Linked DNA regions of Homo sapiens: regions 1 and 3 are each linked to region 2. The links come from fine-mapping of genetic effects on gene expression. A gene starts in region 2. Each other region holds a variant in brackets. All regions are shown on one strand. Distances are from middle to middle.

Region 1 (10,228 bases), 37 kb before region 2:
CAAGAGTGGTGGCTCACACCTGTAATCCAAGCATTTTGGGAGGCTGAGACCAGAGGATCTCTTAAGCTCAGAGTTTGAGACCAGCTTGGGCAACATAGTGAGACTCTATCTCAACAAAATATGAAAAATTATCCGGGCCTGGGGGTGCATGCCTGTAGTCCCAGCTAGTTAGGAAGCTGAGGCAGGAAGATCACTTGAGCCCAAGAGTTTGAGGCTACGGTGACCTGTGATTGCGCTGCTGCTCTCCAAACTGGGTGAGAGAGAGAGACCTGTCGGAAAACTAAAAAACAAAACAAAAAATTCGTTTTTTAACGGCAAGAAAAGGCCCAACTCCAGGACTGTTTTTTCCATGTTCTATATCCCCCAACTAATTTCTCCCTTCTCTTTCCCTCCCTTCCTTCCTTCCTCCCTTTCTTCCTCCCCGACCTCCTTCCTTCCTGCATTACATGTAAACATCCCTACCTAACTCAAAATTCCTTCACCAAGAAAGCCCTATATCCAATCCTTCTGCTACTGGCTGTGTGACTTTGGGCAAGTTCCTTAACCTCTATTTAAACATCTTAGAACGGTTTTTACATTTTTAAAAGATTGCAGGAGGAGGGCAACAAATAATAATACGCAGCAGAGACCATATGTGGCCCACAAAGCCTAAAATATTCAGTCAGCAGTACACGGTATCAACTATAAGTATTCTTTAAAAACAGACATTCAATCTGAATCTTAAGGAGACTTTAGATCCAACTTTCAGTTGACAGGAAGCAGGAGGGAGAGTAAGACAAGCTAAACGGCACCTCGGCACCACCTCACCCGCTAGTGAATGTGCCGCTGAGATCCCCTTCAGACTGAAGCACTCAGTCCCCAGATTGCTTGACATTTGGCTGCTGATGGGTCACAGCTGAGCTCCTCACCAGGCCTTGCCCTCAGCTGAAGGAAGTGGCCTTGCTAAGGCCCCACCCCTCTCTGGGATGGCCCCTGTTTGAACTTACGTGCATTTCTTGCCTCGTGCATTTCTTGCCTCATTTGGGGACCTCACTGAAAGGCCACTCCAGCCCTACAGCACCCCGCTGAGGCCTCACCTGGCATTGCCCCTCAATTTCTCCCTCTGCCCAAGCCTGGACCCCTTACACCCTCACAGGTGTTGATCGTGAGAACCTTCCCCCCAAAAACTATCTGCATTCAAATCTCCATCCCAGAATCTGTTTTCCTAAGACATCCCTCCACACCCTATTCTCAGCGTAACAGCTAGAGTTAGTGTGTTAGAGATAAGGCAGGTCTTTACTACTTTACTCAGATCCCTTCAATGGCTTCCATCTCATCAGAACCTTGCCATCTACACCCTTGTTGCATTATCTCTTGACTTTGCCTCCTACTCCTCTGCCCTTGATCACACCAGCCACACTGGCTTCCTTGCTCTTCCTCAAACATACCAGGCATGCTTCTGCCTTGGGGTCTTTGCACATCTTCTTCTAGCTTCTTGGAATGCTCCTTGTCCAGTTATCTGCATAACTCCATCCCTCACCTCCTTCTAGTCTTGAGTCAATGAAGGCTTCCCTGACCCCCTACTTAAGTGTGCAGGACTCCACCCCACCCCAGACTCCACATCCCTTTCTTTGGTTTTCTCCATAGCACGTATCAGGATCTGGCACACGGTACATCTTATTGATGTTATTTAACGTCTGTCTCCACCAGAATGTAAGCTCCATTATGTTGTTTAATGTCTGTCTCCATCAGAACGTAAGCTCCATGAGGGCAATAACTTTTATCTATTCTTTGCTGTATTCCCAGAACTTAGAATAGTAACTGATACAAAGTTGCAGCCCAATCAATATTTACTAAATGAACAAGTAAATAAACGAATGGAAGACTGTGAACATGGAATCAGAAGAAGGCTTGTGATCTTCAGGGAAGTCCCATAACTTCCCTAAAGTGGAATGGAAGACTTCCCTAAACGAATGGAAGACTGTGAACGTGGAATCAGAAGGCTTGTGATCTTCAGGGAAGTCCCATAACTTCCCTAGAGTGGAATGGAAGACTTCCCTAAACGAATGGAAGACTGTGAACGTGGAATCAGAAGGCTTGTGATCTTTAGGGAAGCATTCTTCACATGAAAAACAGGAACCATAATTCTTATGTCATTTTGGTAATGATTATACAATATAACATTTATAGAAGCATCATGTAATAAACTGCTAAATAAAAGGCATTTTTGATCAAACTGAATTCTTCATCAGAGAGGTACTTAATTTTTATAATCTAAGAGCTACCAGATTGCCAAAAAGGAAGCACAGAAACATTCAGACACAGAAAACCTTAAAAATGGTTCTGATATTCAAATAAAATATAAAATGATTTATTCCAAAGCCATACCCAAAACATACAATGAAATACATCCCTGTTAAAGACTTAATAAAAAGAGCAATCTTTACATTTTACAATTTGAAGACCTTCTGTTCCCACAAAAAGTCTCATAAAATTCCATAAAGTGTCAAATGTATTTTCCTGTTTATATAAAATGTATTCTCTCTTCAAATATAGCCGTTTTATTATGAAATTGTTCTCAATTTCTGAAATTCTCAGTAGTCTATAGTATCCCATTTTCACATGCTTCTTAAAATGAGGTAAGAAGACAAACGGTGAAACTTTTTTCAGATCATTTTTTCAGAAGTCAATGCCTTGCTGATGCAAAGCGCAACATGCTTTTGTCATCCCTTTCATCTGAAATATTTTCCCAGTGGTTACTCAGTATTTTGCACACAAAAAACAGTTACAATACCTGCCACTTAAAAATCCATAACATGTTGTAATTCTTCTTATGTGATTTTAAGGTCTGAATCAAAGCCATTGCTACAGTGATTCACTATTTTCTTTACAGGTATTTTAATAAATATTCCTCAATTCTAGAAGACTGTTCCAATCCTTTAAAGTGGGGGTCAGCAAACGTCTTCTGTAAAGGTCCAGATATTTTGTTTTGTGTGTCATTTTTCTGATGGATATTTTTTACAACTGTAAAATATTTTTAAAAAATTATTTAGCTATTCTGTAATTTGTTACTCCATTATTTTAAAAAATAGAAGTAACTAGTCTCTAAATCAGACTACTCAAGTGTTAATAAAATGTAAACTTCACATTGTGCAGTAAAATAAATCCATGGTTTCTGACTACTAAATTGAAAGTTCATAAGCAGTAAGAAATGAATCCCACTCAAAGAGTGGGGCTACATTCCAGATATTCTTTTTAATCAATGACACTGTTTTAGAGCTTCTTTTTCACTTTCATTGAATAAGTCACATGTCTTTAGTTTGTTTTTTCTTGGTCTTACTTTTCACAGGGAAAAATTCTCTTCATGAGGCTAATTTGAAGTTTTTGAAATTAAAGACTGGAATACTTTCATGCTGACAGAGGTAGACGCACACGCACTGGTATATGCAGTTACAAATACTCGCATAAAATGGAAACCATTATTTCATATATAAATTAATTAATCACAAATGCTCTCCATGGCTAAGAAGGAATCAGTGGAAACCAGACAGAAGGTATGCAAGACAGTCCTACAGAATGTTCTAATTTGCTTTTATCACATGTAGTTGCTACATTTTAGGAAAACATGATTTAAATATGAAACATGTAATATAAATTAATATAGTGGCATGATTTATTCAGGTTCTCGATGCATATAACCTGGAGGTGACTAAACGCTGATCTATAACATGGTCCTATAGCTTGGTACTGAGAATCACAACTCTGCGTGTGTGTGTGTGTGTGTGTGTGTGTGTGTATGTTTTGCATGTTTTCCTTTCCTACCACAAACAGTGTTATAACCAGATTATGGCAAATAAAAGAACAGTTGTAAATTTACCCAAATATATCATAAACAAGTTGGAACACTCTGGAATTACAGTCATATGATATTCTACAAAAATATTTACAAATTCTAAAGCTGAAAAAGTTGAAAACTTTGGTATTCCTAAAAAGAGAAAGTTCAGGGCCATGCGTGGTGGCTCACACCTGTAATCCCAGCACTTTGGGAGGCAAGGTGGGAGGATTTCTTGAACCCAGAGTTCGAGACCAGCCTGGCCAACATGGTGAAACTCCGTCTCTATCAAAAATACAAAAATCAACTGGGCGTGGTGGTGCACGCCTGTAATCCCAGCTACTTGGGAGGCTAAGGCACAAGAATCACTTGAATCCAGAAGGCAGAGGTTGCAGTGAGCTGAGATCATGCCACTGCACTCCAGCCTGGGTGACAGAGTGAAACTGTATCTCAACGACAACAACAAAAATTTAGCCAGGTGTGGTGGTGCAGGCTGCAATCCCAGCTAGTCAGGTGGCTGAGGCAAAAGAATCGCTTGAACCTGGGGAGGCAGAAGTTGCATAAACTGAGATCATGCCACTGCACTCCAGCCTGGGTGACAGTGAGACTCTGTCTC[CAA/C]AAAAAAAAAAAGAAAGAAAGAAAGTTAAAGTATACTGGGGAGTCCATGCTTAATTTTTGAACTATAAAAAGTTTTCAGTGCAAAATTATTGCTATTGATAAATAGCAATGACACAAAAACCACATGAAACACTTAACATCTATACAACACATAACAATATCCTGAAGGTATGTTTTGGCATAGAAAAGGTAATTCGGGGATAGGAAATAACAGATTGCTTTACTGATTTAATTCTAAGTCTGGGTGTTGGAGTGTTTAAACACTCTCTTTTTGCAAACAGACTCAGCATATTTATAGCTCATCATGTTTCTTCTTAAATGGCCACTTTGGGTGTTGCAATACGTGGTCTGCAGCCTGAAGGACAAGATACATAAATTCTTCTACATCGAAAGAGTAGTTGGTGAACTTCGGGTGCTCCCCCAGGGTTGGATGGTGGCCCTGTGAAAATAAACCAAAACACGAATCCATAACTCAATGAGGGCATGGTTTTCTCTACAGCAGGAAAATTATGTTACTTTGGTTAAGGCAACTAATTTATGTTCTACATCAGAGACCAGCAAACTTTTCCTGATAAGGGCCAGATGATAAATATTTTCAGCTCTGCTGACTCTAAGGTCTCAGTCACAGTTACTCCACTGTCGTTGAAGTGCACAAACAACTAGAGACAGTGCATAAACAGACAGGCATGACTGTGCTTTCTTTACAAAAACATGTCATGGGCTGGATTTGCCCACAGGGCTGTTGCTTGTTGATCCCGTCTCTATATATAATCTAATAGATCTTTCTAAGCCCAAATTTCACGAAGCTGCCTTTGTAACATTAAAGATATAGGTTGCTTAATTCCCCTTTTTCTCCTATTTGCAAATATAAAATAAAACAATTCAGTATTCCAGAGAACAGTTTATCTTTGCAGCACTGAAGTTCAATAACCATTTTTCATATCAATAATTGGATACTTTAAACCAATTAAAAATGAAGCAAGGTAAGTTTTGTGATTGAACTTTACCTTATCCTGAGGAAAGACTTTGTTCTGCCGTCGCCAAGTGATGTAGTGAACGCCTCTCAGCCTGGCCAAGTCTAAGTAACAGCGTTCATCTTCACAGTTGTACCTAAGGACACAAGGGTGTCACAACATGAGGCTTTTGTCCAAGGTTTTTTCCAAATCAACAACTCTGCGAAAATAAAATGCAGCTCCCAAATATGTCCTTGCAAAAGGTTGTAAACAAGACTGAGGAAGACAGTAAACAAGACTGAGGAAGAGAATGTAAAAATATTCTCTGAACTAAATGAACTTAACTTTTAAAAAACAAAATAGGGTCATGGAATGGAGAGAATTGACCTTATTCAATAGGGCCTGCTGCCTATGGACTTGGCATGACCTTATAATACCTCTGTCTTTAAATGTATGAAAGAGGCAAGGGGGATAGGTAACACTTCCAAGGTCATATAACTAAATAGTGAAGGATGCAAAAGTAGAACCCAGGTCCATTAGACTATAAGGCTTGAGTTTTCTCAGTTACATTTCTCTCCCTTCTCTCTCCTTTCTTCCATCCTTCCTTCTCTCTCTATAAGAGAAATGACAGAGATAGAATCCATTATCTGGCTATTTCTCTACATATATCATATATATTTTTGAAATGTTTTGCAGGGCATTGGAAGTTCATGACAACTTTTTTCCTAAATAGCCTCCTATTTAAATACAGAGTCAAATCACTTTTAAAATGAAACCATAGAACCCAGATATTTAGACATAATGGGGGGAAACAGGTAACAGTAACTGCTATTAGTGTCTCAAGACCTAAAATGGAGCACAGTGCCAACAGCAGAATTATTATGAGAGGGAAGGTCATGTCTCCATAAACCAACCACTGAGTTAAAAGTATGCCCTGGGCAAATCATGAACACCCAAGGGCCTCAGTTTCCCTGTGTATGGGATCAGCAAGCACTAAGTTAAGTGGTTGGCTTGTGTTTTGAAGCTATGTCGTGCATGAGACATAAATGCTTTCTTTTAACACAATAACTACACTGTTTGCAAGAAGACGCTCAGAGTTTGGGAGGTATGCAGGAACAAACTCAGAATAAGGAAACCACAGATTCACATCTTCCATATCATGCTCGGGATGGGAAGATGAAGGGGTAGTTGGCTTACTAAGTGCAATGGCAGGCTGCAGACTTTGTATTTTTAGCTTCAGGCCTCTTTTCTTTCCAGATTGTCTATATGATGTGACTTCTCTTTTTGAATGATTAAATATTAAGCCTTTTGATGCTCAGAATGAAAGCTTTAGCATGCATAAAAAGCATTATCAGTTGCTTCAGTGTAAAACTGCCTCCCAACACTTACAGTTCAAATACAGCAGCCCAGTCTGGAAGGAAAAGTAAATGGGTCAGACCAGCTCCATGCATTCCAATAAATATGTCCGTGTTGTGTGTGATCCTTAGTTGATCTAAAAACCCAAGTTCTCTGTGAACATACAGAATAACATGAGAGAGATGGGGAGAAGAGAGAAGTATTAGGTTGAGTTAGTTCATGATTCACAGTAAGGATATTTATAAAAGTGTATTGCCCATTTTAAACCACATTCCATTTTTAAGAAGCATTTTTGCCAATTTCAAGTGCGCTCTAGTAATTAATAAGTTTCTTAATAATTTAACATATTTTCTAAGTAAGCTCACCTATCCTTTTAGGTTTAAGTACTTTTTTTAAAGGAAACTTTAATATCTGTCTTAAATGGAAAAGCAGTGACATATGACATCAACAAAACTGTAAAAATTGATATAATCAAACTAAGTAGTGTTCAAATCGAGGTAGATACTATTGCAAGACAAAGCTCAGAGCCTGAGGCCTGCTCTTTCTTCATGAAAAAGAGAAATTGGCAAGTGTTAAAGAGATGTTGTGACACACTAGCACTAAATTAAAAACTATTTCCTTAGGACAATAGAAGCACTTTTTAAAAAGAAACATTTCTCCTTGTGTGATTTAAGTTTTTATAATGCCCTCTGGGTACCTCCAAAATGATCTCAGATACCACCAGGGCATTATCCTGCCTTTGGAACAGACAAATCCACAATTTTATGCATGTTAGGACTGTACAAGTGTTCTCTAAATCCAAGACACTAACCAGTGTGTAAACTTTGAACCAAAAATCAGTCCCCAAACAATTCACTGAGGTGAGGCTAGGGAGAAATGCTGGAATAAGGGTGACACTCTGAATAAACAGAAAGAAATGAGATCTCCCAGCCCCAACTTACCCAAAGTAAAGAAAAATAAATGATCAAGATTATTTTGGATCTACGAAGGGAAGCTGAATTCCCTTTTACACCAGCTAACAACAAAAACTCCGCATAGGAAAAAGATGACAGCTCCATGTGTATGTGTATCACAACGAGAACATGTGCCTCAGTTTCTCCAGGAATGTGAACTGATGCCAAGGGAAGGACGGCCATTCACCCAGGTGAACATACCCCTGCACTGCCAGTTGTGGAAACGCCTGTGGTCAGCACTCACCAATCCCCATGCCAACATGTTACTAGTATTTCCCGCAGACTGGCAAGGTACGAATTCATTATCATTCTTGCTTATCTGAGAAACTACAACATATCCTTAAAAGCCAGTCAATGATACAGCCTCAGAGGTGCCCTGCCCAGTTCTTTCCATTTCTTCCCAGCCTCATCTAGGTGAATGGTTTTGGGACTGATGTGGGGGCCCCATATTGGCTCACTCATTTCTTCAAGCAACACTGACACAACATTTCTTCAGCGCAGCAGATTTTACATAATCTGTAAAATGGGACTAGCTGGGCCAACTCAGAAGACTGTTGAAAGCGTGAGATGAGATAAAGCAAGTAAGCATAAAAGTACATTTCGATAAATAGTAGCTGTTTTTACAATTGCTATTTACCTCTATTCAGTGTCTGAGATCCTCAAGACCAGGGCTATGCCATCCGCCATAATGGGATTCCTACTGCTGAGACTGGTGACCAGCTCATGGGTCCCCAATAGAGATTTATTGCACAAATGAACTAATGTATGATGAATGAAGTGCAAAGCTCCCATGCCAACATTCTCTGAAATTAAGTGTATCTATATTAGATACCCACATGCTGGGATATGTATACTTCTTTTAACTGGAAAGTGTTCACAGTGTTAGATTTGGGAAACACAGCTGTGACTGTAGGTGGACATGGAGACAGAAGTTTTCACTTTTCCTTTTGATCTTTTCTATACTGCTTGACTTTTCAACCAGAAACATGTACTACTTTTACCAGGAAGATGTAATTCTAGCAACAGGAATTACCCAAACTGTGAATAATAGGCATATTCTGTCTTTCTAAGCCTTTTAGTTGTGTTAAGAGTTTTAAAAGAAATGTAAATATTTGGTAAGTTTTTTTAAAATTTCATGTTATTCTGACCCTCAAATTATCCCCATATAAATAATTTTCAGTCAGATGTTGAAATCTGGCAGGAGGCAGGGCAAATTAGGTTTATAACATCTAAATTTTGATAACTTTTTTGTTATCAAACATTTGATAATGTTATCAAATATTTGATAAATTTTATAACACCTAAATTTTGAACTAGTTGCCAATTTTTTTTTTTTTGAGACAGAGCCTCGTACTGTCACACAGGCCGGAGTGCAATGGTGCAATGTCAGCTCCCTTCAACTTCTACCTCCTGGGTTCAAGCCATTCTCCTGCCTCAGCATCCTGAACAGCTAGGACTACAGGCACACGCTGCCACACTCGGCTAATTTTTTTTATTTTTTAGTAGAGATGGGGTTGCACCATGTTGTCCAGGTTGGTCTTGAACTCCTGAGCCCAGGCAATCCACCCATCTCAGTCTCCCAAAGTGCTAGGATTACAGGCGTGAGCCATCGTGGCCAGTCTGCCAATTTTTTAAAATTATGAAATTTTAGGCCGGGTGTGGTGGCTCATGCCTTTAATTGCAGCACTTTGGGAGGCAGAGGCGGGCAGATCACTTGAGGTCACGACTTCAAGACCAGCCTGACCAATATGGTGAAACCTCGTCTCTACAAAAAATACAAAAATTAGCCGGATATGGTGGCACACGCCTGTAGTCCCAGCTACTCGGGAGGCAGAGGCAGGAGAATTACTTGAACCCAGGAGGTGGAGGTTGCAGTGAGCTGAGATGGCACCACTGCACTCCAGCCTGGGTGACAGAGCAAGATTCTGTCTCAAAAACAAACAAACAAACAAACAAAAAATTCTGAAATTTTAAATGAAAATCTGAATTCATCACTTCTTTTGAATAAGGAGATGGAGTGACAACATCAGGCCCCAGAAAGCCAAAGAGTAACTGCCCTTGTTACCAGGGACTTCACCTGCCCATTTCATTCATCTGTAGTGTCTACTTGTCCCTTCTGGGCCTACAAATGCCAATGGCTCCCACTGGAAAAATGCTTTCTAGCCCCCTTGACCTCATCCAAGCAAAAGTTGACAGTGTCTGCTGAGATTGGCTATTACTTACCTATACTTGTAATCAACAATCTGGACTTCAAATGTAGATACTGTTTTCAGTGCATTTACAAGCTGGGAAAAAAAGAGAAACATTTAGCATTTCTTTTCCTTCTTTCACTTCTGTTTTTCCCTTATGAGTCCTAAAATTTCTTTTTTTGCATATACTATTTCAGATATTAAATATCATTTGGTAACAACAACAACAAATAAAAAGAAAATAAATAAATATCATTCAGGTCAATAGTTCTGAACTGTCATTAAGTTCAAATCCAGGCCCCACCTGTGAACACACGACTCTACCTCCCTCAGATACCAATGCACTGT
Region 2 (9,802 bases):
AAATGAAGACAACTTTGTTAACAAATTTCCTTTAAAAGCCAAAACAACAACAACAACAACAACAAAAAAAAAAAAAAAACAAAGGGTCAAGGGCTAAGTATAATTACAAAGCACTTTGCTATCCCACTGAATAATGATCCTTTATTCAATTTTTTTTGAGCACTTGCTTGGTGCCAGGCACCACGTTAGCAAATGGGTATACAGAGGTGAACAAAACAAGAAAGAGCCTTGCTCTCATGGTGCCTTTAAACCTACTACAACTGTCATAAACAAGCAATCAAATAAACAACTTCAGCTGATGACTGGGCCTGTGAATCAAACCAACTAGGGGCCAGCAAACTTTTCCTGTAAAGGAGAAGCAGTAAATATTTTTGGCTTTGCCAGACATAAGATCTCTGTGGCAACTACACAACAATGCCTCTGTCCAAAAAAGTAGCCATGGTCTATTATAAAAGAATGGATGAGGCTGTGTTCCAATAAAACTTTTTAACTTACAAAAATTATGGAAGGGCTTGATAGGATCCAGTTTAGTGATACCTGAAACTAAATAAAGTAATATGATAGACAACATAGCATGGTGAACATTTAAAGCTTAACCACCTGGATTTGAATCGCAAATCTGCAGCTTCCCAGCTGTAAGACCTGGAACAAGTTACTTAACCTTTCTGCACCTAAGCTTTCCCATCTGTAAAATGGAAATAATAATAAACCTTCATCATAGAGCTGTCATGAGTTAAATGAGTTAGTTATTGGTAAAGTGTTTCGAAAACTATCTGGCACATGCTAAATGCTATGGAAATGTTTATTAAATAAAAGTTTAAAGCCATGTGGGGCAGAGAAGGGGCCTAAATAACATTAAAGCTGAGATCTGAATGATGAGGAGGGGAAAAGTATCTGTGAGAGAGCAAAGGGAGTGGGATGGCTCTGAGCAAGTGTGTGTCTGCTGAATAAAAAATTATAATCATAATCAAGGTATGAGCACAGACAATGTTCCAGGAGCGCTTCTGTACTCAGGATACAGCAATGAAGGTGCAGTCACGAACTAAACTCATTGCCCTTGTGAAGCTTACATGCTAGTAGGTATAATAATCAGCTATAATAGCTAAGACTTAGAAACTCCAGGACACTAAGCAGTCTGCCTCAAAGACTGTGCCCTTAAGCTCTCCCATCATGCCTTTACATTGTGAACAGTGATAATGGTCAGAAACCTCACTGCATTTCTAATTCACCCAGTAAGTGTTAAATCTCTTGGACCAGATTTCTCCTATATATCCCAGACAATGATCCTGCCATTCTCAGGTCACTTTAGTGGGATCTTTGTTCTTTTTTTTTTTTTAAGTGCTCTTTCCACTGGATGACAGAGTCTTAATACACACTGGATGTTCATCAGCTAGGACTGCTGTTTCCTGGGTCATACCGGAAAACCCAACTTTCGAAATCAGTCTTCATTGATTATGGGCTGTGAAGATGGAACCTTTAGAAACAGACTGCAGGCCTGTAATAGTAGCACTTTGGGAGGCCAAGACTGGCAGATTGCTTGAGTCCCTGAGTTCGAGACCAGCTTGGGCAACGTGATGAAACCCGGTCTCTGCTAAGAATACAAAAAATCAGCTGTAGTCCCAGCTGAAGTGGGAGGATCACTTTAGCCTGGGAAGTCAAGGATGCAGTGAGTCGTGATCTCGCCACTGCACTCCAGCCTGGGTAATGCGAGGGAGACTCTGTCTCAAAAAAAAAAAAAAACAAAGAAAGAAAGAAGAAAAGGAAATTGACTGCTATGTTCCATCAAACCTCAAGTTCCAAGGCCATGGAATTCTAAGTGAACAGTGGGGACACCAAAAAGGAATCCTTTTTCCCCCATTTTCCCCCCTTGGAGTAGTTAAGTATTGTGGTTTTTCACTTTGGCGGCCCTCAAGAGTATGGTGTTATCTGCTGTAAATCTGATCTGAATTACAATAACATTTTCACTTGGAGCTTTTATCCAAGAATGAGTTGACAGCAGTTTTATAAAAATTTAAAAACACATATTAATAGTAACAATGACTCTACTTGTAATAAAAATATATACCTCTTGAATCTTCAGAACCACTCAGAAGCTTCTGTGATGTTTCAGGTCTCTAAAACCTGTCAGAAATGAAACATATTACCTTAAAAGGATGCTAAAGTAAACCTGATCATTCAGATGATGTTGTGAATTAAAGGAAATATTAAGAAAGAAAATAATGTAACGTGATAACTCTCAGCCAGAAGGCCTGGCCGGTGGTGCGCTTTCTTTTCCTTAATGAATACCACACTGCTATACTCGAGTTCACAGGCACCACCCCCAACACAGCAACTCGGACCAGATTCCAATGGGGAACGGGAGGAGGTGGCCCACTTTCTACAGGCATCCACTGGAACTGGCCAACAGGATACTTAGTGGATCAAACATTCCCAGAAGCAAACAACTTTCCCATTCTCACAGCAGTAATCCCACTGGCTGAATCACAGGGCTACCCACCTAGAGTGGCGAGCCTGAGGGTTCCCAGGCCTTCCTATTTTTTGACTCGTCCTTCCCGGTAATAAAGTCATTGTTATGACCAAGCCCTGACCTTTGGTTATCCAAGTCCATTGTCCTCCAGTGAGCTCTGGCCATCACTAAACTCACCGATCAGTGGAGAAGTAACGCTTAGGCGATGGAAAAAATCTAAAGACGCAGATCAGAAAGCTGGCGTCTGGCGAGGGCATGTACCCACTTGCATAAGGCGGCTGGGGGTGGCTGCTGGGCCTGGCACAAAGCCTTCCTGGTGTCGGTCGTCCTGCAAGGCCCGCCGGGATGGGTGGCTGCACTCCTCCAGCACACGGACGCTTTACTGGCCAGGCTACTTTTCCTTCAGCTCAAAGCAGCTGGAATCACTCCACTCCAGAAACCCTTGATTCGATTTCCACAGGCCTAATGAGGAAGGAAAAAAGGGAAACATCTGAAAGATGATGGATAGGAGGCAAAACCTGGGGTTGACACAGCGGGCGAAATGGGGCAATGTCGCAGAGAGAGAGAGCTTGGAAAAGTTTAAAGACGGCAGTGGGCAAATGGAAAGTTCAACACGTGAGACCCCGAATGACACCTCAACGGCTGGCCCCTACTTGTGCCAAAAAGTCTCTCGGCGGGTGCCAGGCAGGGCTCAGGAAGTGCTCGGCTGCCCCTTGAACGTCAGTCCCGGCAGAGCCCAGCTGTCCGCTTGAACGTCAGTCCCGGCCAAGGGCTGAGGGGTCAGTGGCGAGCACCCCGCCGCGGCTGAGACGCCGCGCTGGGGTTCCGGACCCCGGGCGCCGCCAGGGATTGCTTCGGGGTCGGTGATCTCCCGGGGCCGCCCGCCACCGTGCACCGCGGCGCCCCGGGTCCCCAGCGCGCCTGGGAGGGGCCCCGGGGAGCGGCTCCGCCCCGGCTGGAAACCTGGTCAACGCGGCTAGGGCCCGGGGCCCGCCTGCGCTCCGGGCGCTGGGAAGGGGCCGGGCGCCCGGGGCCGGGGAGGGCCAGGATCGGCTTCCGACGCCCGCCTCCCGGCCCGCAGGGAATGGGAAGGCGCGGGCGGAGTGCGTGCGTAGGCTATAGCCCTCCGGGAAGCCGCGCCGGGAGCGGCTACCACCCGGGCAAGAACAGCGCAGAGCGCTGCGGCGGCGGGAAGGAGAGCGGGGGAAGGCTCCGCAGATTGCGGGGGAGTCCCACCTGGAGCCGGGGCAGCCGTGAACTACCGAGGAGGAGGCGGAGGAGACGGCGGCTGTTCCAGAGGAGGGAGTCGTCATAACCGGCTACTGCCGCTCACCGGAAACCTCGGGCGCGGGAGCTGGGCCAGGGGGCGCCAAGGAGCAGCTGGGACACCTTGGCCAGCCGGCGCCGTGGGCGGGCTCGGGCCCCGCAGAGGCAGGACCGGGACTACACCCAGGAGGGCCAGGGCGCGGGGCCCGACGCTCGGAGCGGCTTCAGCCCGGCGAGCGGCCTCGACCCGGCGAGCGCAGCAGGGAGGGGCTCAGAGTCGAGGAACCATCTGCCCTTCCTGGCGTTCTCCCGCGAACGTTCGCGCGAGTCCGCCAGCTCCCTCACCAGGGCCGGAAAGACCGACGGCACGTGCCGGCGCCGGACGCCCATCTCCATCGCAGCAGCCCGCGCCTCCTTGAGCGAGAGCGTTAAAGCGCTCAGAGGATGTTAGGACGGGGTGGGTAGAAAACCTGACTCTTCGTGTCTTCTGCGTTGCACTGAGGTGGATTTTTACTTTTGTCTTATTTCAAGCAGAAGTTGCCGCCCTAACTTCCAAATTTGGGGACTGAACATCGTTCACCGAATACACTTTGTGATGGTGAGGATACTTTGGAGTCCACACACATTTTAAAAGCAGTATAGTTTTACCTATCCGTAAACTCATCAAGTTCAAATGCTACTCTGTGGAGTTTAATTTTTATGGTTTTGTTAATTTACTTTATTACTGCTTATAATTATTTGAACTCCCATCCCCCACTGTCTTTTCCTCTAAGCTCCCCCAGGCCTAGTATTCCATCTACAGCACAGTAGAGTTGATCATTAAATAGTGACTAAAGTTGAACTGATTATATGAAGGTGATGACTTCAAAATAAACATGCTCAAATGAATATAGTCACCAGAAGTTAAATAATATGATCATAAGGAAACAAGTTTGTTTCCAAAGGCTTACATGCTTTTTACGTAATTTTTAAAAGTAATGTTGTTTAAGAATTGTTACAAGTTCCATTAGTGACCTGCTAAATTAGGAATCTTACCTGGAATTTTTTTCAAATAATAACAGCAAGAACATGTGGTGTTTAACATGTGCCAAACATTGTTTTAAAGCACTTTACAGTATTAATTTATTCTTTTTATTGAAAAGATTTTGCCTCTAAGGGAACTGTCAAGAGGCATGTGAACCGGAGCAACTCCATCTTAAATAGGAGCTGAGTAAAATGAGGCTGAAACCTACTGGGCTGCATTCCCAGGCCGTTAAAGCATTCTAAGTCGCAGAATGAGATAGGAAGTCGGCACAAGATACAGGTCATAAAGACCTTGTTGATAAAACAGGTTGCAGTAAATAAGCCGGCTAAATCCCACCAAAACCAAGATGGCCATGAAAGAGACCTCTGGTAGTCCTTACTACTATACTCCTATCAGCGCCATGACAGTTTACGAATGCCATGGCAATGTCAGGAAGTTACCCTATATGGTCTTAAAAGGGGAGGCATGAATAATCCACCTGTTTAGCATATCATCAAGAAATAACCATAAAAATGGGCAACCAGCAGCACTCAGGGCTGCTTTGTCTATGGAGTAGCCATTCTTTTCTTCCTTTACTTTCTTTTTTTTTTTCCTTTACTTTCTTAACAAACTTGCTTACACTTTGCCCTGAATTCTTTCTTGCTCGAGATCCAAGAACCCTCTCTTGGGGTCTGGATTGGGACCCCTTTCCTATAACAGAATTACTGCTCTATTATTTTATACTTTGCATACTTCACCATCCCACACTAATGACAGTAATTTTTTAAAATGCTTCCTCAAGCCAGGCACTGTGGCTCATGCCAGTAGTCCCAGCTACTCAGGATGATCGCTTGAGCCCAGTGAGGTTGAGGCTGCAGTGAGCCATGATTGAGACACTGCACTCTAGCCTGGGCCACAGTGAGACCCTGTCTCATAAAAAAAAAAAAAAAAAGCTTCCTCAGCCTACTTGCTACCATCCTATTTTTGTCACATACAAAAAGGTTAAAATCAGTATGACATGTGCATGGTACTATTTTATTTTATTTTTTTTGTAGAAACAGGTTCTTGCTATGTTCCCAGCACTTGTTTCCAACTCCGGGCCTCAAGTGATCTTCCAGCCTCGGCCTCCTAAAGTGCTGGGTTTACAGTTGTGAGCCACCACGCCTGGCTATGTGGTGCTATTTTAAACACCTACATATTGAATGGTCATTCAGACTTACAGGAAACCAGATATGATAAACCTGAACATGAGATTGAGTCTCTCTTACTGTAACAGCCATTCTCAAATAGAATTTCTCTCCAAAATACCAATGTTAGAATTTAAATTTTCTTTGAGCTGACATAAAACTCAAGTGTCTACCAATAGAAGGCTGGTTGAATAAACTATGGTTTATCCATACAATGTAAAACTATGCATGCATAAAAAGGAATTGAGAAATATCTCTGTACACTACAGAATATTGAGTGGGAAAAGGATATGTAATATGTAAATATCATTTTTCTAAGAGGAATATGTGTGTATACATGTGTATACACATATATATTTACTAATTATTATTTTACAAGTAGATTAACATTTAAAATGACTATATGGGCAAGGAGGGAAGAGGAGGGGTATAAGGAACAAAGAAGACATGACTTTGTTTTTTGGTGTGTGTGTGTGTGTGTGTGTGTATGTGTGTGTGTGTGTGTGTGACAGAGTCTTACTCTTTTGCCCAGGCTGGAGTACAATGGTGCAATCTTGGCTCACTGCAACCTCCATCTCCTGGGTTCAAGCAATTCTTCTCCCTCAGACTCCTGAGTAACTGCGATTACAGGCATGCGCCACCATGCCTGACAAATATTTATATTTTTAGTAGAGACGGGGTTTCACTGTATTGGCCAGGCTGGTCTCGAACTCCTGACCTCAAGTGATCCGCCCACCTCAGCCTCCCAAACTGCTTGGATTACAGGCGTGAGCCACCACGCCTGGCGTGAAGACATGACTTTGAAGTCATGTAAATATGTTACATTATAAAGCAAAATTCTGTTTTTAAAAAGCAATCCTTGAAAGTAAAATGAAACTAAATGAACCTAAATGTTTTCCAATTGTGGCATATCACCCAGAGGAGCTATCCCAAGTGACTTTAAAACTTAATTTGTATATACTTAGTGGGATGTATTCTCAGGACTAAAGTACAAAAAAACTCTTTTGTAGACTGCATTCCGTAACCAAATTGTTGGTGGCAATATTGGTATTATGGGATACACCAAGTTGAAGTAATTATGATGGTACCTTTGAAGCTGAAATTTTTGACATGAGATAGAAATATGAAAGCTTAATCAGGCTATATAAACATCCTGTAGTTCTGAATTTCAGTTGGAGGCCTCAGTATGATTAACAGTATGGTTAATCTTTAAAAACACATCTCTCCTACGTGCTCCATTGAAAAGGCCTAGAGACAAGCTACCCAGGAGGAAGAAGCACCCCCTTGCGCTCACACTGTGATCTCTACCAACCATTTCCCATTAAAAGAAACACTGACTCCATAGAACAATGGATGATCTTGGGTCTGGAGCAGGAAATGTACAAGATAAGCCTGCAACATCTTACATCAGGAAGCAGCAAAGCAATCAAAAGGCTATTAGGGTCATATCAAAAGGACTCAGGATCCACCTTGAAAACCTTCCTACTGGCCAAAGATAGGATGATTTAAAACATAAATAAAGGTAACTGTAATTGGATGAAGGACAGATACATTTAAGTAATCATATCAGACACGACCAATCAACCAAACATGCAAGCCAAAAAGGTATCGCTGTTCATTTTTAATGACAGAAGGAAACCAACTCTTATTCTGAAAACTGGTAAACAAAGGGAAAGAATCAGGAATATTTATACTGTCTTTCCTGTATGAATTATGATGCAAATAACAAAATAACTGAAGTAAATTTTTTATGGAAACATTCCAACTACTAAATGAAAAAGAAATGACAATATCACTCCACAAGCTCTGTGAACTAATAGATTTAAGAAGTGATCATCAATTATTTCTTTATCACAACTGAGAAACCATCAGGAATTATCTGTCTCCTGCTGGAAGAATACACTTCCACCTAATGAAGTATTTTTGTTGAAAAATAATTGCCTTTAGATTTAAACACAGGAGGCGGAACACACTAACAAAAGGTAAGAAATCAACATCCAGATGGAGGGAAACTATAGGACAAATGACCTAGTTTTTTCTACAAATAAGAAACTTCATCGAAATTGCAAGAATTAAGAAAAAGAGAGACAGAGATGGAAGAATGCATGGCTTAAAAAATTTGAGACAAATCCAACAAATTACAATGAGTAAATTGCTAACAATATCAGCAGAATGTAGTATACTGGTTCTCTCATCCAACTGTTAGACCATAATTAAAAGGTGTTGACATTTTTAATGAATAAATTTTGGCTGTAACTGATCTATATGCTTATGATTTTACAGAAAAGCAGTAGGAAAAGTAGCACCATATAATTAATTATTGAAATCATAGACTCTGGAGCCAAACTGCACAAATTAGAATCCCAGCTTTGCCACTTACTTGCCATATGACCTTGAGCAATTTACTTAATCTTTATTTTTAAAAATGGGGGTGATAATGGCATCCATTTTAAAAGGTTGACTTGATGATAAAGTGTGGGTACACACTTCCTTTTCCAAAATCCTTGGGTCCCTGTGTGTGTCTGAACTTTAAAAAATAGAATAGATATGCCCATCGTTTAACTTAATACCCCCCCCCCCCCACTGAGTCCTGGGTGAGTACCCCATAATCTCACACAGTATTTCTGCAGCAAAATGTATGAGTATTCACACCAAATGAGTTAAAGACTATACATAGCCCTATGTCAGTGCAGTGCAGGCTTTACCACCGAAGTAGATTTAACAGCAAATGTATTAAAATATGTATGGTTTTTAGAGCTTTGTGGATTTCAGAACAATGATTATGGGATTATAATCCTACATAAGTGAATTCCTTACACAGTGTTTGGAACAAAATAAGACTATGTTTCCCAAAAAAAGAAAAAAGAAGAAAAGACTATATTTCCTATTACCAACCTGACCACAGATTTTTGAACAACGTATATTTTTAAAAATTAAGATTGTAATTTTAAAACAGACAAATCAGCATGGCATTTTATAAAAATGGAAGGAATACCTCTATCTACCATGCTGTGCCTATACCTGTAAAAGCAAGAAGAATGTTTAATATTAAACAAACAGAAAAACCTGCCATTACGTTCTTGTTTAATGTTATTTGCGATTCTAAATATTAAATTTAGGCTACTTGGGAGTAGGGCAGTGTGGGGAATTCCAGACAGTTCTAAGAGTAAATTCTCTTTACCGTATTTGTGAATTATTGAAGCATTTTGAGTTTTTTTGTTTTGTTTTGAGAAAAGGTATTTAAGTACTAAGGAGAAATACATTTCATTTCCAGTCTGTCTTACAAAAAGATCTTAATTTGCTAAAAGGTAAAATGCGTATGTATAAAGGCAACAGATTAAAAGTACTTTAAAGGTTACAGAGCTTAATCCAAGCAATATGAACTCAGAAATAGAGGATAACTTATTTTAACTGTTGTTATTACTTGAATACAGAAACATAAGACTTTTAGAAGAATGTCTTGATATTGCTTAAGATTAAAAACTGACACAAACTATCCTTACAGTAGTTACCAGCTAGTTATAAGTAAATTCTTAGCACTGTGTTTTCCGAAAACATATCTTCATTAGAAGATAATGAACTTAGGGCCGGGCGCAGTGGCTTATGCCTATAATCCCAGCACTTTGGGAGGCCAAGGTGGGCAGGTCACTTGAGTTCGAAACCAGCCTGGCCAACATGGTGAAACCCATCTCTACTAAAAATACAAAAATTAGCCGGATGTGCTGGTGCGCACCTGTAATCCCAGCTACTTGGGAGGCTAAGGCAGGAGGATCACTTGAACCTGGGAGGCAGAGGCTGCAGTAAGCTGAGATCACACCACTGCACTCCAGCCCAGGCAACAGAGTGAGACTCTGTCAAAAAAAAAAAAAAAAACTACAC
Region 3 (10,228 bases), 44 kb after region 2:
AGAAAACTGCCATATCTAAGTCAAAAACAAAGAATGAGAACACATACATGTTCTCATATTAAAATACTAGCACCTACTTTTTTAGTATTTGTACTTAATTTTGTTTGAAGTTTTATTCACTTAAAAGAAACAAAAACATGGTCAGGCATGGTGGCTCATGCCTGTAATCCCAGCACTTTGGGAAGCCGAGGGGGGCGGGGGGGGGTGGATCACCTGAGGTCAGGAGTTTGAGACCAGCCTGGCCAACGTGGTGAAACCCCGTCCCTACTAAAAATACAAAAAATTAGCCGTGCATGGTGGCAGGCGCCTGTAATCCCAGTTACTCCGGAGGCTGAGGCAGGAGAATTGCCTGAACCGGGGAGGCAGAGGTTGCAGTGAGCTGAGGTTGCATCATCGCACTCCAGCCTGGGCAACAAGAGCGAAACTCTGTCGCAAAAAAAAAAAAAAAAAAAATTATATTGATACAGAAAGTTAAATTAAACCAGTAAATTTTTACTATAGAAATTGCTGTAGCAAAAGTATTAAGTGCAATAAAAATTTGATATAACTCTGCTACACATTTAAAAATTATTCCTATATTACCATGGAACTACTGATTACCCTTAATGTACTTTTAAAAACTTCAGTGAAAGAAGTACACAATATATGATTTTATTAATAAATAGTGCAAAAGCATCAGTGATAACTGTTTGAACATTAAATTTTTTAAACAGCCATGTCTTGGCATTAGTTAATATTGTGCATATTGGCCTCTATGGCACTACAAGTAAACAGATGAAAATATTGCCCATTTTCATGCACAGGTATTCAGCTATAACACCATTTACAAATCATTATGAACAAGATAAATTCTGCAATAATATTCATTTGGATGGCCACAATTAAATGAGTGTTATATCAAGAAATAGCCTATGTTCAATATACTCCAGATGTCAGATTGTAAAATGTAATGTTATTTAAAACTTAATTCTTTATTTTCCTTAAAGGGACACCTTTTGTGTATTTGGGTACTCAAATGAAAACTTAGGAATGCATTCTTTGACCATAATAACAAAATTCACACAAAAGAGGTTGTATGCTTCCTCCTCTAAAAGAAGCAATACATTTGCTCATAATCTCTCTCTCCAGGTATCATTTCTCATATTATTAATGAAAATGCTTACAAGCACCAACACCAAAATTCTGTCTTCAAGGGAAGGTTACAAAGTTAAAAAAGAGTGGTTCATTATATAAAAAAAGACAAATCGTGGCAACACTATTGCTAAAAATGACATCGATTCAACTTCTTAGCATCCACAAAGTATATTATTTCCATGAGTTTTCTATTATGTGGAGATTTTCCTTAAGAAGTAAAATGAAGTTTGAATAGTACAGTCTGTGGGGTGGTGACATCAGCAACCGCCAGTTCTTGTCCATCAACAAGCCCCAATTCTAAAACAGAAAAAATATTATTAATACAAGCAAAAAAAACTCAACAGAAAGGATAATACACATGTAAACAAACTACAGAGTATTACGGTCTAGAAAAACATCAAAATCCAATCCTCTTTAATCAAAGTAATATTTGATTTCTTAGAGATTTTAAAATATTCTACTAAAAGAGCAATTAATTCTATTAATATGTCTAAAGTTGTAAGTAATTATTACCTGACCATATACAAGGCATTAAGAGGAAATCTAGAACAAGCACTGATTACTTTCACCAAAAAGAGAGAAAAGAAAGAAAATGATTAGTAAATACCCTTATGTAAAATACCTTTCAATGTTTTGGAGAGATTTGGCCTTGTTCGTTCTTCAATAGAGGTTACCGACTAGAAAACAAAATTACTTTAATGTAAGACACATTAAAGTAAAATAAAACTTGATATAATTTTCTGAAAAAAATTTAAAATACACATTGATAACCTGTAAGTAAAGTGTTCTATTTTTTCCCTCTAGGGTGGCTGTGATGGCTGGAGATTTCATTTGCCTAAAGATTATGATGAGAGAGAAGTATCAAACATAATTTTTATCAAAAGATAATTTTTTTAAGGTTTCAAAAATCACAAAAATGATTTTTACAACATAACAAAAATCTACAATACTTACAGAGAAGCACTATTGGTTAGATAATCCAAAACCTCCTGTAGTTTAGCTGATGGAGAAAACTGAATATTTTGAGGAAGCTGGCTACAAGCTGGGCAGTTTTCCTACACACATAATACACAACAAATTACAGCAGCACATGCACCAATATTAGTCTCTTTTATGAACAATAAAATAAAAATCAGGTTGTTTTATAATCATGCATATTTCCTATAAAAAAATTTTTATGCTTTAAAGCCTGCTTTTCATAATAGACCATTTCTTGTAAATTACTTCGCTATAGAGTTATTTCAGGCTATAAAGCAAAAGATATATAATAAGTAGAGTTCTGGAAGTTAGAAAATGTATGGGTGACTTTGTTCAAATTTCTAACCAATAATATTTAAAAATCAAAATATGCATGATCAAAAATGTGTTCTTAATACTACTAACCTTTCTTTCTGCTTCAAATGTGTATGTATACAGCCCATCTACATCATTAAACACCAAGTAATTATTCAAGGGAATGTATGCACTGTAATGAAAAAATGTTCATCTTTATATAATTAAACCAAGTCAAAACATAAATTTACATGCATATTAAAAATGAAACCTATTACCTTGTGGCTATTTTAAAAACCTCAGTGGCACACACAGCTGAAGGGAGGAGAAAATACAGGTGCTTTAACTCAATGGAAATTAGGCATGTTAAAAGTCAGTTATAAATCAGAACAGATAAATTTACATTGGCTCTTCATTAAAAAATACATATTCCAATTTTTAAAAACTGAGACAGTAACAAATTTTACATTGTTTTGTGTGATTCATGTAATAGAGTAACACTACATGTTTTTCTTGTTTATCAGATTAATAAATGGCCTGCTTCATATGGAACTAAAACGTCTCTTTACTGCAGGTAACTTAAGACATAATGTAAGACAAAAAATATGCAAAGTCTAATAACTGGTTCTTTTTCGACAGCTTAGTTACACAACCCATCCAAGAAGATATCAAATTCCTACAACACAAAAAAGCTGCAGCAACGTCAAAAACTAAAGAAAGCAAAATAAACTAAGTGATGGCCTTTTCTTCCTCACCTGCAATGACTGCATTTGTGGAAGCTACTGCAGGAATGATTCTTTTTACTACCCCTGAAAAAACATATCAATTAAAATATGGTCATTTCTTTAAAATAAAAGAGTTCTCTTAAATTAGAAGGCATGATTATTAAATACCATTTTCTAAAACTTGATTTTTCAGACTTTCAAGCCAGAAAATAAATTTAACCATGAAACAATCTTTCACATCCCCATCACTTTGTAGTAAATTCAGAATCTTAAGCTACAGTAGCAAAGAAAACTCTCTCAAGTAAGTGCTATAGAAAGGTGAAACAATAACATCATAATAGTTAACAATTTAGAGTATTATGTTCCAGGCACAATGTAAAGACTAAATATTATTTAATTTTCACAACATCTTCATGTTAATTACTCTGATTTTAAACATAAGAAAAGTGAGACTGAGAGAAATTTAGTAATTTATCCACAGCTATATACTTAGCAAGAGGTGGGGTTGGCATATGAACACAGATATTAACTGATACACCATGAAGAATAAGTGTTATCTAATTATTCCTGTAACAGCTTCAGTCACTTGATTCACAAACATTCAAAAAAAAGAAAAGCTGCCCTTTATTATCTTTTACTCTACAACCGAGGCTACACAAAATATTAAATACAGTTCTCTACTTCAACCCCACATTTTTCTTTTTTTTTTTTTTTTTTTGAGACAGAGTCTCGCTCTGTCGCCCAGGCTGGAGTGCAGTGTCGTGATCTGATCTCGGCTCACTGCAAGCTCCGCCTTCTGGGTTCACGCCATTCTCCTGCCTCAGCCTCCCAAGTAGCTGGGACTACAGGGGCCCGCCACCACGCCTGGCTAATTTTTTGTATTTTTAGTAGAGATGGGGTTTCACCGTGTTAGCCA[C/G]GATGGTCTCGATATCCTGACCTTGTGATCCGCCCGCCCTGGCCTCCCAAAGTGCTGGGACTCACATTTTTCACATCAGTATTATTCACATATTAGGAATAAACAAAGCCTCACCTTAAACCATTTTTTAAAAGTACAAAATAAATACTCCATTTTATAACTATATTTGAATTGTTCATTTTAGAAGACAAAAACTTCAAGAAAAAGTAGCCATTTTATCTCACAGTGTGAGGAAACACTGTAAGATGTGTTCCCAAGACTCCAAGTATAGTCAGGTTTCAAAAACTTAAGGAAAAACAGCAAGTAGCTAAGAAGACATGAAAGAAAGACAGTTACGAAGGCTGGAAAGCTTTTTTAAAAAGTTGACTGTGACCATATGATTCTCTATAGTTTTGGAGAAGAGGAAATTTAAAAAGAGATAAACTGCATGATGGTTAAACTGGAAGCTCTCCACTGAACCACATGTAGCAGGATGTACTGAAAGGAGGAAGTGGTAGACACAAACAGTGAAGCGTGTAAGAGACACTGCCCAGTAAGAACATTGCCAAAATGATGAGGACTCCCCTCTTTCTCCAACCCCTGCCACCCATACCCCTGCCCTTCGACCAAAAAAAGCTAGAGTGGGCAGAAAGGCAACTTTCTGTTATACTGAGAACAAGGGGAAAAATCATAGAATAGATAGAACCACTGGCTTGTGCAACTTCACTTCCAATTCTCCTTCTGTACTCCTTGTTGAGGCCCTCATTCACCAGCCTAGAAAGTACACACCAAGCCCTGGTAAAAGGTAAAGAAGGATGGATGAGACTACATATTAAAATGGGGAGTTTACAGTTTCTGGTTAGAACACACTGAATTCGTTTGTTAATTCTAACAATTAGCAAATATGTGTAACACATGCTCCAGACACTGTTCTAGGTGTTGTGCATAGTAACAATGAAAAAAAGTATCTGCTCGTATAGTGATTTCATTTTGATAGGGGAGATAACACAAAAGTAAATACTTGGAACACCTCAGATATTGAAGAGTTCTATGAAGAAAATGAGGTATGTGTTAGACTGAGAATGATGGATGCAGTCCATTAGAGAGAATGGTCAGGGAAGGCCTCCTTGGAGAGGTGATAACTTGAGCTGAAACCTAAGCCATGAGAGAGATCCAGCCATGCAATTACCTGAAGAAAAAGCTGTTTGTAAACAGCAATGGCAATGGTCCTGGTCCTGGGGCAAGGATGTAAGATAGTTTAAGTGTGAAATATTCTTTGCATAGGAGAATGAGGCTACCATTAATCAGTTCTGAGCAATTACCAAAAAAAATAGAATGGTGAATGGCTCAGAAGTCATTTTAGGTTGAATGATTAGGAAAACTGGTTAAGCAGACACCTAAGAGATGAGGAGCCAGCCTGAGGGGATCCAAGGAAACACCATCCCCGGCGTAGGAACTCGGGAGTATTAAAGCTCTAAGGTACAGAAGAACTTGGTGTGTTCAAGGAACACAAAGCAGGTCCGTGTAGGGAGAATGCAGAGGGCAACAAGGAGTAAGTATAAATGGAATTTTAAAATGACATTACTAGATCAGTAAATGTAAGGAAATAATCACAGGAGAGAAATGGCAGATTTTCAAAAAGAAGACAAAGCTCATTCTGGTGAACCTGGTAATGATCTTGGGCAAAATTCTAAAAAAGGAAACTATAACTAGATTGGAAACATTGATCACTATGATTGAGCATGACTGGTTACTAGACAAATCATGTTGGAGTAGCCTCATTTGGCTACTATGACTAACTTAGCAACTCAGGAAAATGCAAAAGATAGCATACCTAGGCTTCAGTAGAGGATCTGGAAAGGTTTTTCATGACATCCTTGTGAACAAGATAAAGAAATACAAAGTACCAAGAAGGTCTGATGAACAGAATGAGATAAACCTAAAAGGGCCTGGCCAGAAGTATGATTCAGATGTCTGTTCTCAGAGAGTTCAGTCTTATTAAAAATTTTCATCAATTATTTGAAAAAGAAATAAAGGATATAATTATCAAAACAGGTGAAATGAAGCTAGAAACACCAGGTAAGTTGGCAGAATACATATAAAGAGAGAAAAACAGGTTGAATTTTAAGAATACATTTGTAAGGACCTATACTTGGATATTAAGAAAAACAAAAAAAAAAAGACACTCCCCAAACTGCCAAGTTTATAATAGGCAGATGTGGCTTAGCAATTGCATATGTGGACAAAACATCCAGCTTTCAGTGGCTAGTAACATCAAAGAATCCAAAGTATAGCATCAATGTAAACAAAAAAACAACAACATAAATACCTGCTCTCCTTTAAGACTGCATCAGTTATCAGAAGTCTATTATCTAAAGTTAAGACCAGTCCCATAATGCTGCATGTTGGCCTGAACAATTAGGAAAAGTTGTTTTCTCTAACTATATTCCAGTTAACCAATATGGATAGCTGGAATATGGTTACAGAAAAACAACATGAGAACCTGAAGCTGTACAACATATCAAAGGGTTGGATATAGTTTGGATATCTGTCCCCTCCAAATCTCATACTGAAATGTGATCCCCAGTGTTGGAGGTGAGGCCTAGTGGGAGGTGTTTGGACCGTTAGGGCAGATCCCACATGCATGGCTTGGTGCCCTCCCTGTGATATTAAGTTCACGCAAGAGCTGGTTATTAAAAGAAGCCTGGTATTCCCTCCTCTCTCTCTTGCTCCCTCTCGTCATATGACATGCCTTGCCATCCCCCTTAGCTTTCACGAGTAAAAGCTTCCTGAGGTCTCACCAGAAGCCAAGCAGATGCTTTTGCCATGCTCACACAGCCTGCAGAACCATGAGCCAAATAAACCTCTTTCCTGAATAAATTACCCAGTTTCAGATATTCCTTTATAGCAAAGCAAAATGAACTAATACAGGGTTAAAGGAACTAACTAGGGAGGTTTATGGCACTGATAAAAATTTGCAAAGGATGTGATCACTGTCCTCAATATGTTAAAAGCTATTACTTAAAAGGGAATTAGACTGTATACAGTACTGGGACAACAGTCAGACCAAACTGAAGACGATTTCTATTTTGAGACGAAGTTTTGCTCTTGTTGCCCAGGCTGGAAAGCAGTGGCGCAATCTCAGGCTCACTGCAACCTCAGCCTCCTGGGTTCAAGTGATTCTCCTGCCTCAGCTTCCTGAGTAGCTGGGATTACAGGCATGTGCCACCACACCCAGCTAATTTTGTATTTTTAGTAGAGACAGGGTGTTGCCATGTTGGTCAGACTGCTCTCGAACTCCTGACCTCAGGTGATCCGCCTGCCTCGGCCTCCCGAAGTGCTAGGATTGCAGGTATAAGCCACCGCAGCTGACCTGAAGACAATTTCTGTTCAATATATAGAATATTTGTCTAACAGTCCTGTCCAAATGTGAAATAGACTGTCTCTAAGAGATGATGAATTCAGTGGAAGATAAAATGGACAGTTTGACTTGGATGACTTATAGCCTAAGTAAGTAAGATTCAATAATTTTATTAAATTCCCCCTAGCTAATAAGTAGTATGAATTACATGGTACCTTTACTGAACTTCAAGTGGATGGTACTGTCTAAACTCACTTATCGATTATTCTCCTGAAAGCATCCCAGCCCTAAGTCATCCCAACATCATAATTCATGACAATTTGCTGACTTACCTTGAGTGAGCCTATACGTAACACCCCTAATATTATATTGTGATGCTCTCTCTAGGGATTTTTGGAAAATCCATTGTATATGTTCAGGATCATCTCCATCTAATGGAACCCCTTCTGTTTAAAAAAAAAAAGGGAGAGAGAGAGAGAGAGAAGACAGGAATACGTAATCACAAAACAATGTTTTTAATGAAATTATCCAAAGGAATAATATAGAAAAAATATGTATTTTATGTAATTCTAGATTATTAAATTAGGTTTATTACCTCCAAAAGGCTGCTCCTTAGGCCACTGCAACATCCTTACATACTCAATACAGTGTTCTGGTAGCCTGGGCATAGATGCAATGGTGCACATGGGAAAATTAACCTAAAACCACAGTTTGTCCTTTTCAGTGAATTTTAAACGAATTATTTTAAAATGCAACTTCCAGTTATGATCTAGTTCTTAACAATTTCATACAATTTGTTTCAACTCAAAATATTGTATACCATTAAAAATGCCTCTCAAACTATAATACAGATTAACTGAGTCACTTCACTTAGGCTGCACTGCCTGTAAAGACAGGTTTGCCCTACATTTACAAGGTATAAAATTTAAGCTTTGTTAGACTATGAGAAGAAAAATACTGAACAGATTTTCTCAAATATGAACACCTTGTTATTTTTACCTAATATTTAAGTATAAAGCAAACCAAAACAAAAGCAAGTTCAGAGTTAAGTGAATCCCAAGTGAATACTCATAAAATTGTTTACATTTATTATTCAAAATTTCAAGTGTTCTTTAAAGTGGATATGTAAACCAAAAAGCCCCATCCTTGGAAAGATCATTCTTATCCCTGGTATCTTTATTTCCCTGAAATAAATACAGGTGAAAACCACATAGATTACAGCTTGACATCAATATACAACTTTGTAATTCTACTTGATACCTACTCCCCAAATAAAAAATACAAATAAATTATGAAAGCAGAATAGTATCAAAACAATGTACTCGGTTCATATCTTTCCTCAAATAGAGCAGAATTTCATATTTTATCTTTCTTCTTAGTGTAATTTTTAAAATACGGCCACTTCTAATTAACAATCCTAAATATTAACTAGACTTAATAATTAATCCCTAATTCCATGCCAAGATACTATAAAAGAAATGCAGGTGCTTTTTTGATTACCTGTGGTGGATAAAGTTCCAGCGTGCATTCGATACAAGCAGTCATTCCAGGCAGAATCACCCGGGCATTTCCTTTAAAACCTTCTGTCCCCCCATCTATCAAAGGGACAATGGAGCTTGGATCTAAGACACCATCTTCATAATTTAGAAGAGATATCTAGGAAAACAATTTGAAGGGCTTTAAAGGAGAAGGGGATAAGAATTCAAAAGAAGAAGTATGCTTTCAAGTAATCCTATGAGTCGGTTGTGCTATTGAATACCAATGTATCAAATCAAGGGATTATAATAACAATTTGTGTCTTCACCTGAAAACCAATGACTGGCAATAAACAATGAAGTAAATATACTTAATTAAAAATTAAACTCTGATTTTTCAAAAATATATCAATTCTAATTTTGGGGATGTGAAGCACAGCAGCAAGAACTTCAGAGAACTATAACAATACTAAAGTCTTTACCAGCATGCCATTTATCCATCTTCTGGCGATGATAGAGTCCAGTCCACATACAATAATATGAAATTCTACAAAAAAAAAAAAAAGCAACTTTAGTTTTTAAATATGTAGTTGCATGATGATCTTTCAATGTAGATTCATCAACTGCAACAAATGTACCACTCTGGTGCAAGATGTTGATTAGGAAGGTAGTGTGTTTGTGGGAACAGGAAGCTCTATGAGAACCCAAGTTTTCAAAAATTTTCTGTTCAATTTTGTTGTGAACATAAAACTGCCCTAAAAAATAAAGTTTACTAATTAAAAAAAAAAAGCACTTGCAGAAAACAATTTGCACGTTCTAAGAAACCAACAAAAAAACCACAAGCACTTTTTACTGTAATCCCACATACGTTCTCAGAGCTCCAATTCCTTGAGTGAACTCTCATTCAGGTAAGCATAGAAACTTGTAGCTGGTCATGTCAGCTAAAACTAGCATTCTCTTTTCAGTCTATCAGCAACATTACTGAAAAGCCAACAGTGAGAGAGGAAAGCAAGTGAAGAAATAGCCTTGAAATAGCTAGCAATATTTGAATAGCTACCAACTAAAAAATTCTAAGAATCTAGTGAGCATTAATTTCAAGTAAAAAACTTACGTCGATAGAAAGTGTCGTTAAAATCTTGAATCTTGTTGAAATGTCTGAATACAAGTAAAGGAACTTAAGCAGCTAAGTTTTAATTTCTAAAATGAATTTGACAATGCCATAAGGAACACACTCTGCATATATTTACAACAAGAAATAAGTAATCAATGTTCACATCAGTGGAATTCAAGGAATCTGACTAAATGAACACAACTCTCCTTTCTGACAAAACTTTTCTGCCATTCCTCCCCTAACTACTTACTTTTT

The links.
Region 1: its variant is fine-mapped to the expression of EOGT in monocytes after interferon gamma (Fairfax 2014, PIP 0.95).
Region 3: its variant is fine-mapped to the expression of EOGT in skeletal muscle (GTEx, PIP 0.98).

What each region holds. Positions count from the first base shown.
Region 1 is chr3:68,972,897-68,983,124 of GRCh38, forward strand. It overlaps EOGT (EGF domain specific O-linked N-acetylglucosamine transferase), which reads right to left. Exons shown (of 18, transcript NM_001278689.2): 15 at 9,915-9,976; 16 at 6,772-6,891; 17 at 5,437-5,539; 18 at 2,329-4,868. The coding sequence ends at 4,722. Among named protein-coding and RNA genes, the nearest start is that of EOGT-DT, 35 kb to the right of the region's middle. The variant CAA/C (reference allele first, on the strand shown) is at 4,428.
Region 2 is chr3:69,009,871-69,019,672 of GRCh38, forward strand. It overlaps EOGT (EGF domain specific O-linked N-acetylglucosamine transferase), which reads right to left and starts at 3,814. Exons shown (of 18, transcript NM_001278689.2): 1 at 3,704-3,814; 2 at 2,645-2,929; 3 at 2,066-2,121. It overlaps EOGT-DT (EOGT divergent transcript), which reads left to right and starts at 3,250. Exons shown (of 1, transcript NR_185971.1): 1 at 3,250-8,183. RefSeq lists silencers at 3,132-3,681, 3,742-4,041.
Region 3 is chr3:69,054,095-69,064,322 of GRCh38, forward strand. UBA3 (ubiquitin like modifier activating enzyme 3) reads right to left here. Exons shown (of 18, transcript NM_003968.4): 7 at 9,974-10,017; 8 at 9,345-9,409; 9 at 8,888-9,043; 10 at 7,983-8,085; 11 at 7,720-7,833; 12 at 3,162-3,215; 13 at 2,685-2,721; 14 at 2,518-2,599; 15 at 2,089-2,189; 16 at 1,906-1,969; 17 at 1,757-1,811; 18 at 636-1,431. The coding sequence ends at 1,343. Among named protein-coding and RNA genes, the nearest start is that of TMF1, 6.9 kb to the left of the region's middle. The variant C/G (reference allele first, on the strand shown) is at 4,048.